Regions from separate parts of the Homo sapiens genome. Here region 2 is linked to region 1. Evidence: fine-mapped expression QTL. A gene starts in region 1. The other region holds a variant in brackets. All regions are shown on one strand. Distances are between the middles of the regions.

Region 1 (4,385 bases):
AGGGCAACAAGCCAAGAAGACACACGTAATGCAGCCATAAAAAAAATGCAATCAGCTGGGCGTGGTGGCTCACGCCTGTAATCCTAGTACTTTGGGAGGCTGAGGCAGGAAGAACTTGAGCCCAGGAGTTCAAGACCAGCCTGAGCAACATGGCAAAACCCCGGCTCTAGAAAAAAATACAAAAATTAGCCGGGCGCAGTGGCTCACACCTGTAATCCCAGCATTCTGGGAAGCTGAGGCAGGTGGATCACCTGAGGTCAGAAGTTTGAGACCAGCCTGGCCAATATAGTGAAACCTGATCTCTACTAAAAACATAAAAATTAGCCGGACATGGTGGCGGGCGCCTGTAGTCCCAGCTACTCGGGAGGCTGAGGCAGGAGAATCACTTGAACCTGGGAGGCGGAGGTTGCAGTGAGCCGAGATTGTGCCACTGCACTCCAGCCTGGGTGATGCAGCAAGACTTCATCTCAAAAAACAAAACAAAAATTAGCCGGGCGTGTTGGCATGTGCCTACAGTCCCAGCTACTCGGGAGACTGAGGTGGAAGGATCGGATCACTTGAGCCCCAGAGGTTAAGGCTGCAGTGAGCTATAATTTCGCCACTGCACTCCAGACTGGGTGACAGAGAGAGACCCTGTCCCAAATTTAAAAAAAAAAAAAGATAATGAAATCATGTCCTTTGCAGTAACATGATTTTTTTTTTTTTTTGAGATGGAGTCTCGCACCCGTCGCACAGGCTGGAGTGCAGTGGCGCGATCTGGGCTCACTGCAACCTCCACAATCTCTTTCATATTCTTTTTTTTTTTTTTTGAGACGGAGTTTCGCTCTGTCACTCAGGCTGGAGTGTGGTGGCGCGATCTCAGGTCACTGCAATCTCCGCCTCCTGGCTTCAGGAGGCGTGCGTGTGTGTGTGTGTGTGTATATATATATATATATATATATACACACACACACACACACACACACACACACATTTTTTTTTTTGGACAGGAAGTAGAATTTATTGGTGAGTATTAATAGGGGGGGCAGCACATTGGAAGCCCTCATGAGTGCAGGGCCAGCCACTTGTCCAGAGGGCCACGATTGGGGATGTACTTGACCCCACAGCCATCTGGGATGAGCCGCTTCTCAGCCACCATGTCTTCAAATTCATCAGCATTGAACTTGGTGAAGCCCCACTTCTTTGAGATGTAGATCTTCTGGCGGCCAGGAAACTTGAACTTGGCCCTGCGCAAGGCCTCAATCGCATGCTCCTTGTTCTGCAGCTTGGTGCGGATGGACATGATAACTTGGCCAATGTCAACCCTGGCCACAGTGCCCTGGGGCTTTCCAAAGGCACCTCACATGCCTGTTTGGAGCCTACATTGTGGTAGTGCAAGGTTAGAAACATGAACATCCATCGGAAAGGCCTGTCTCCAAGGTCCCTTAGAGCAACCCATACAACCAACAGGCTGCGTACACTACCAAGGAAGCTGCTGTGTGCAGCCATTGCACACACACATTTTTATAGTTTCTTGGTGGACTTGCCAATTCAGAAAATATCTGTAGTATCAATGAAAGTGAAAAATTCAACAGGTCCTTTGGCCACGATATTCCAGTAATACAAATTTATCCTTGTGCATAGACATCAAGAAGCATCATTAAGTAAAAAAATAGAGTTCTCTGACTCTCTACCAAGCCATTCGCTCGGGGCCAGACCCACAGGCCTCGCCCCGCCTCAACCACGCCTTCATGGCGTAGTCTTCTCCCTGTCTCCGTCCCCCGCTCCCCACCTTCCGAGCGTCTCCATCGCTCCCCAGCCACGCCCTTGGCGCCTGGTCCTGCTGCAGCCTGGTTTCCGTCCAGACCACGACCTCTCGGCTAGGTCCTCGTCGTCAACCCCGCCCCCAAGGTCTCGCCCCGCCCCAGCCCCGCCTTCCAGCGGTTGTCCGAGCCTCTACCCGCCCTAGCCACGCCTCCAAGGCGTGGTTCTCGTCTGCAGCCCCACCTAGGCCTCGCCCCGCTCCAGCCGCGCCTTCCGGGCTTGATCCTCGCCCCACCCCAGCCACGCCTTCTGGACTTGGTCCTCGTCTCTAGCCCCGCCCCCTAGCCGCGCCCCAGCCCCGCCTTCTGGACTTGGTTCCGTTCTCTGGCTCCGCCCCTGAGCCTCGCCCAACTCCAGCGACGCCTTCCGGGCTTGGGCCTCGCCTCTAGCCCCGTCCCCGGGTCTCGCCCCTCCCCAGCCACGCCTTCCGGACTTGGTCCCCGTCTCTAGCCCCGCCTCCGATCCTCGCCCCACCCCAGCCACGCCTTCCGGACTTGGTCCTGGTCTCTAGCCCCGCCTCCGATCCTCACCCCACCCCGGCCACGCCTTCCGGACTTGGTCCTCGTCTCTAGCCCCGCCTCCGAGCTTCGCCTCACTCCAGCCCCGCCTTCTGGACTTGGTCTTAGTTCCCAGTCGCGGCCAAATCACGCCTCAGCCACCTCCCGCAAGCCTCTCACTGCCTCAGCCACGCTTTCCAGGCTGGTTTCTGGTCCCCATCCGCGGCTGGTCCGGCCCTGGGACCGAATCACTTCCCAGCGAGAGGAAGGTCAAATTTCTCGACCGGCTACGGGAAGGTCGCGGCCGCCGCCCTGTCAGCCGCCTCGGCGCCCCCAGGACCCCTCGGGTCTCTTTAACCGGAAGCGGAAGTGCGTGTCGGCGGGATCATGGCGACTTTGGTCGAACTGCCGGACTCGGTCCTGCTCGAGATCTTCTCTTACCTCCCGGTACGGGACCGGATCCGCATCTCCAGGTGCGGCCCCGCCTCCGGGGGGAAGGGCAGGGCGGAGGGCGCAGCTGGCACCTGGAGATGCGATGTGGCCCGGGGCTGGGGTCGTTCTAACCGCGCGTCCCCTCCCCCAGGGTCTGTCACCGCTGGAAGAGGCTGGTGGACGACCGGTGGCTGTGGCGACATGTCGACCTGACGCTCTACACGGTACGCGCAGCTGGCCGGGCGGGCCTGGGCCGCGGTCGCGGTGCCCGGACCCCGAAGACCACCTCTCCCACCCTGGGACTGTGTGTCGGGGCCCGGGCTGGGGATTTAGAGCCAGGCGATCCGGGGCCTATCTCGGCATCATCGCTTACCAGCTCCTCTTCGACCTCAGGGCCTCAATTTCCTCATCCCTGCAATGGGGATAAAGGACAGTACCTGCCTCACGGGGCTATTATGGGACTTCACTGAGATCACGCAGGGAAAGGGCTTAGAACAGTCTGGCACATATTTATCATTCGATAAATGCTAATTTATGACTATGTTATCAAGTTTTTGTTTTGTTTTTGAGACAGAGTCTCGCTCTGCTGCTCAGGCTGGAGTGCAGTGGTGCGATTGCAGCCTCGACCTCCCAAGCTCAAGCGATCCTCTCGCATCAGCCTCCTGAGTAGCTGGAACCACGGGCGCTCGCCACTACACCTGCTAATTTTTTATTTTTTGTAGAGACGGAGTCTCACTATGCTGCCCAGGCTGGTCTCGAACTCCTGGGCTCAAGTGATTCTCCCGACTTAGCCTCCCAAAGTGTTCAGATTACAGGCATGAGCCACAGCAACTGGCTCAAAACATTTATAGATATATTTGTTGCCCTTTTTGAAACTGTCTTCATAGATAATTGCTATTATAAAGTGAATTTGCACCCTTCCTTTTACGTTACTTCATATGTGTGTGTCCAAAAACAATTATAGTGTTAGTAATGTATTTCTGAACTTCGGGTAATGCTGTTCTACTATTTAGATAGTGTTCTACTTTTAAACAATTTTACTGTATATATCCATCTGTAACTCCCTTTAATACAGTTGCTTTTGAAGTTCTTTTTTTAAGGACAGAGTCTTGCTATGTTGCCCAGGATGGTCTCGAACTCCTGGACTGAAGCTGTCCCCCAACCTCAGTCTCCCAAAGTGCTGGGATTACAGGTGTGAGCCACAGTGTCTGGCCTGATAATATGAAACTTTTTCTCAGTTGTTGAAACTTAGTTGTTGGTTTTGCGAGGAAAAGTTGATTCGTCCATTGGTTTTGTGTGCATTTAAAATTTTACCAACTTTAACTGCTACCCTTGTGAGTTACCATTCGGTGGCCACTATTTCTAGTCAATTTCTGCTGACCCACACGGGTCTAAATTTGGCAAGGAAGATTTGATTCCTCTGTCAAAAGTAGCCCATAACATTTATGCTCTGCAGTTTATCTTTTTCTAATTTATTTTTTTGAGATGGATCTCACTCTGTCACCCAGGCAGTGGCAAAATCATAACATACTGCAACCTCCATCTCCTGGGCTCAAGCCATCTTCCTGCCTCAGCCGCCTGAGAAGATTCATTAAAACATGTTTCTTTCTCTCTTGGTTCATGATATGGTTTGGCTGTGTCCCCACCCAAATC
Region 2 (4,385 bases), 67 kb before region 1:
TTTTGTTTTTTTTTTTTGAGGTAAGGTCTCACTGTCGCCCAGACTGGAGTGTAGTCGCATGATCTCAGCTCACCGCAACCTCCGCCCCCCAGGCTCAAGCGATTCTCCTGCCTCAGCCTCCCGAGTAGCTGGGATTACAGGCACGCACCACCACACCCGGCTAATTTTTGTATTTTTAGTAGAGACGGGGGTTTCACCATGTTAGCCAGGCTGGTCTCGAACTCCCGACCTCAAATGATCCACCCACCTCAGCCTCCCAAAGTGCTGGGATTACAGACATGAGCCACTGCGCCAGGCCAGCAGGGAGGGTCTTTTGAGACAATGACATTTCAGTAAGGGTCTGAAGGAGGTGGAAGGACATTTCAGGCAGAGGGGATAGCCAGTGCAAAGAGGTGATATAGAAGAAATATGTTTGGGGTTTTGCAGGAACAGTGTGGCTGGAACAGAGTGAGTGAGAGGGAGAGTGGAAGGAAGTGAGGGCAGGGAGGTGATGGGACAGATTGTGAAGGAGTTACGTGCCTTGGGGAGAACTCTACTTTGAGACAAGGAGAGATCATGGCTCACCACAGCCTCGACCTCCCAGGCTCAAGCGATCCTCCCACTTCAGCCTCCTGTGTAGAAGGGACTACAGACACATGCCACCACTTCCGGCTTATTTTTTAATTTTTTGTAGAGATGGGGTCTCACTATGTTGCCTAGGCTGGTCTCAAACTCCTGGGCTCAAGTGATCCTCTGGCCTCAAAATACTGGGATTACAGGTGTAATCACGCTTGGCTGAGGATTTGGGCTTTTAACTCAGGGGAGATGGGAGCCATGGAGGGTTCTCAGCACGGGAGAGACTCAGTGTGATTCATGTGTTCACAGGTGCTCTCTGGCTGCTGTGGGGGAAGCAGACTGTGGGGGCAAGTAGGGGGAACTGGGAGACCATGGAAGGGATGAACTCTGCTGGTTCAGGTGAGCAATGCCAGGGGCTTGACCATGGAGATGGCCATCAAGAGGGTAGAGCAATGGGTAGATTCTAAAGGTAAGGCTGATGCATTGGTATAAGAGAAAGAGAGGGTGGGCGGTGCGGTGGTTCATGCCTGTAATCCCAACACTTTGGGAGGCCGAGGCAAGTGGATCACTTGAGGTTAGGAGTTTGAGACCAGCCTGGCCAACATGGAGAAACCTCATCTCTACTAAAAATACAAAAATTAGCTGGGGGTGGTGGTGTGTGCCTGTAATCCCAGCTACTCGGGAGGCTGAGGCAGGAGAATCGCTTTAACCCGGGAGGTGGAGGTTGCTGTAAGCCAAGATCACACCACTGCACTCCAGCCTGGGCAACAAGAGCGAGACTCCATCTAAAAAAAAAATGAAAGAAAAAGAAAAATTGGGTGGATTCTGTTTGCAAGTGAATGTACTTAAACGATTTATTCTTGAATGCCAGAGATGTTTATTGAACACCTGCTGCGTGCCAGGCACTGTTCTGTTTTGAGGACACAGCAATGAACAAAGTGATAAAAATTCCTGCCCTTTGGGGAGTGTACATATGAGAGCGACAGACAAGAAATAATATGAGGCCAGGCACGGTGGCTCACACCTGTAATCCCAACACTGGGAGGCCGAGGCAGGCAGATCACCTGAGGTCAGGAGTTTGAGACCAGCCTGGCCAACATGGTGAAACCTTGTCTCCACTAAAAATACAAAATTAGCCAGGCGTGGTGGCACATGCCTGTAATCCCAGCTACTTGGGAGGCTGAGGCAGGAGAGTCGCTTGGACCCAGGAGGCAGAGGTTGCAGTGAGCTGAGATTTAAAAAAAAGAAAGAAAGAAAAAGAAACGAGATGAATGTAAGGTGCGGAAAAATGCATCAGGGATGGTCCTGGAGCATGACAGGGGCTGCACATGTGGACGAGGCAGACTGGGCAGAATCGAGGATGCATTTCGAAGTGAGGGCTGCTTTCGGGGTTGTGCAGGATGGATTGCCTATTTAGGTGGAAATGACAGAACTCGGTGCCAGGGTGTGAATGTGAACCTGAAGGGACACTGACATAAATACCCTCTTAGGGCCCAGTGCGGTAATACCAACATGTTGGGAGGCCAAGGTGGGCAGATCACCTGAGGTCAGGAGTTCGAGACCAGCCTGGCCAACATGGTGAAACCCCATTTCTACTAAAAATACAAAAAATTAGCTGGGCATGGTGGTGTGTGCCTGTAATCCCAGCTACTCGGGAGGATGGGGCAGGAGAATCACTTGAACCTGGAAGGCAGAGGTTGCAGTGAGCCAAGATCACTCCATTGTACTCCAGCCTGGGCAACAAGAGCGAAACTCTGTCTCAAAAAACAAAAACAAAAACAAAAACCCTCTTAGGTTGAATGTTCATCATTTCCCCCATCTTAGGTTGGGTTCCTGAGAAGCAGAACTAGAGACGTAAGTTTCCAGCACTTTTTTTTTTTCTTTTTTGAGACAGGGTCTTGCTCCGTTGCCCAGGCTGGAGTGCAGGGGTGCAATCATGGCTCACTGCAGCCTCAACCTTCTGGGCTCTAGC[A/G]ATCCTCCCACCTCAGCCTCCCATGTAGCTGGGACTACAGGTGTGCGCCACCACACCTGGTTAATTTTTTAATCTTTTGTAGAGACAGGGTCTTGCTGTGTTGCCTAGCCTGGTCTTAAACTCCTGGGCTCAATGATCCTCCTGCCTCGGCCTCCCAAAGTACTGGGATTACAGGCATGAGCCACCGTGCCTGACTGTGGAGCACATAATTGAAAGTCAGGGCAGGGGTGAGGGGAGCAGGACCTGGAAGAGAATAGATTGAGCAAAGATGAGATCCTAGGTAAAGTCCCGGTTTGGCTTGCTCCACAAGGGTGGGGGGACACTGTGGAGTTATCTCACCATGAGAAGAGGAGTGGGCTTTTTACCCCTGCATCAGTCATTAGCTGCCCCTGGGAGTAGGTGACACCTCCCAAGCATCTCCAAGGTGTGGTGGCTCCCAAAAGCCATGGGCAGGTCCAGAGAAGATCACAGCTGCTAGCAATGAGCCGCCGTGCTCAGCAGCTGCAGGGTGGGTACATCTAGGCAGTCAGCAGCTCTGGGCAGAGCCCCAGGAGCATCTCCCACACTCCCCCAGCCCTAACGAGGGGGGTCATAGGAGCACCAGGCATTTGTGCCAATCACAGCGTGGATGTCTGACACCAGACCATGTTCTCAGCTCTCTTGGGATGAAAACCAGGCCAACTTGGCACTGGGGCTCCTCTGACACAGCTGAGATTTTTTCCGGATTCATTAACTGCCGGAGACTCAGCCCTCTGCCTCCCAGTCTGGGAATTGCAGTCTGGGAATGGGTCAGAATCACTCACTCAACAGTAAGGCACTACTATCACTCCCATTTTGCAGGTGGGGAAAGTGAGGCACAGAGAGGTTAAGTCACTTTCCCATGGTCACACAGCTAGAAAGAGAAGCCGGGTTTTGAAGTTCAAGTTGTCGGCCTCCAGGGTCCATGTGCTTCACAGCTACACTCAACTACCTTTGACTCCATGACCGCTTCAAAACCCAGAGCCCCTGTATCCACCCTGTGATGGGAGAGGAAGGAGGAAGAGAGCAGACAGAGGGTGTTGGGGAGTCGGGGAGGAAGGGGTCACATGGAAAACTTGGAGTGTACAGGAAGCATTCATTCATTCATTCATATCTTGATGCCTGTCCATTGTCTCCAGCATCTGCTGGTGTTGGGACCATAGCATGGAAGAAGACAGACTCAGCCCTGCCCTTTTGGAGCTCACATCCTAATGGGGCATGCAGACACCCACCATGCAAGGAAAAGAATAAAATATAAGAACTTTGTGGAGGGAAGGGGCAGGGAGCTGTGGAGATGTGCACAGGAAGGAACACAGACCTATCTTAGATGATGGAGAAGGCTTCCTGGAGGTGGTGGTGTTTGCTGTGAGCTCTGAAGAATGCCTAGAACTGGCGAGTCCTAGCTGTAGAAACACCAGCATCTCTACAGTCCCATAGACCTGGGGCTGGAGTGCACTGGCACAATCTCGGCTCAGTGCAACCTCCACCTCCCAGGTTCAAGCGATTCTCCTGCATCAGCCTCCCGAGTAGCTGGGACTACAGGCACCTGCCACCACACCCGGCTAATTTTATATATTTTTGGTAGAGATGGGATTTCACCATGTTGGCCAGGCTGGTTTCGAACTCCTGACCTTGTGATCCGCCTGCCTCAGCCTCCCAAAGTGCTGGGATTACAGTCCTGAGCCACTGTGCCTGGGCTTTTTTTTTTTTTTTTTTTAATTTTTGAGACAGGGTCTCACTCTGTCACCCAGGCTGGAGTGCAGTGGCATGATCACAGCTCATTGCAGCCTCAACCTCCCTGGGCTCAGGTGATCCTCCTCTTTCAGCCTCCCAAGTAGCT

Evidence for each region. PIP is the estimated chance that this variant, and not a neighbour inherited with it, causes the effect.
Region 2: its variant is the best candidate, but not a certain one, in a credible set for the expression of FBXL12 in cerebellum (GTEx, PIP 0.70).

Annotation. Positions count from the first base shown.
Region 1 is chr19:9,817,116-9,821,500 of GRCh38, reverse strand. It overlaps FBXL12 (F-box and leucine rich repeat protein 12), which reads left to right and starts at 2,422. Exons shown (of 3, transcript NM_017703.3): 1 at 2,422-2,773; 2 at 2,884-2,956. The coding sequence starts at 2,688. LOC124900430 (small nucleolar RNA SNORA70) reads right to left here and starts at 1,547; the gene lies at 1,407-1,547. It also overlaps the pseudogene RPL10P15. RefSeq lists silencers at 1,861-2,010, 2,231-2,320, 2,771-2,930.
Region 2 is chr19:9,884,154-9,888,538 of GRCh38, reverse strand. All of the region lies in intron 1 of OLFM2 (olfactomedin 2), which reads left to right. Among named protein-coding and RNA genes, the nearest start is that of OLFM2, 50 kb to the left of the region's middle. The variant A/G (reference allele first, on the strand shown) is at 2,528.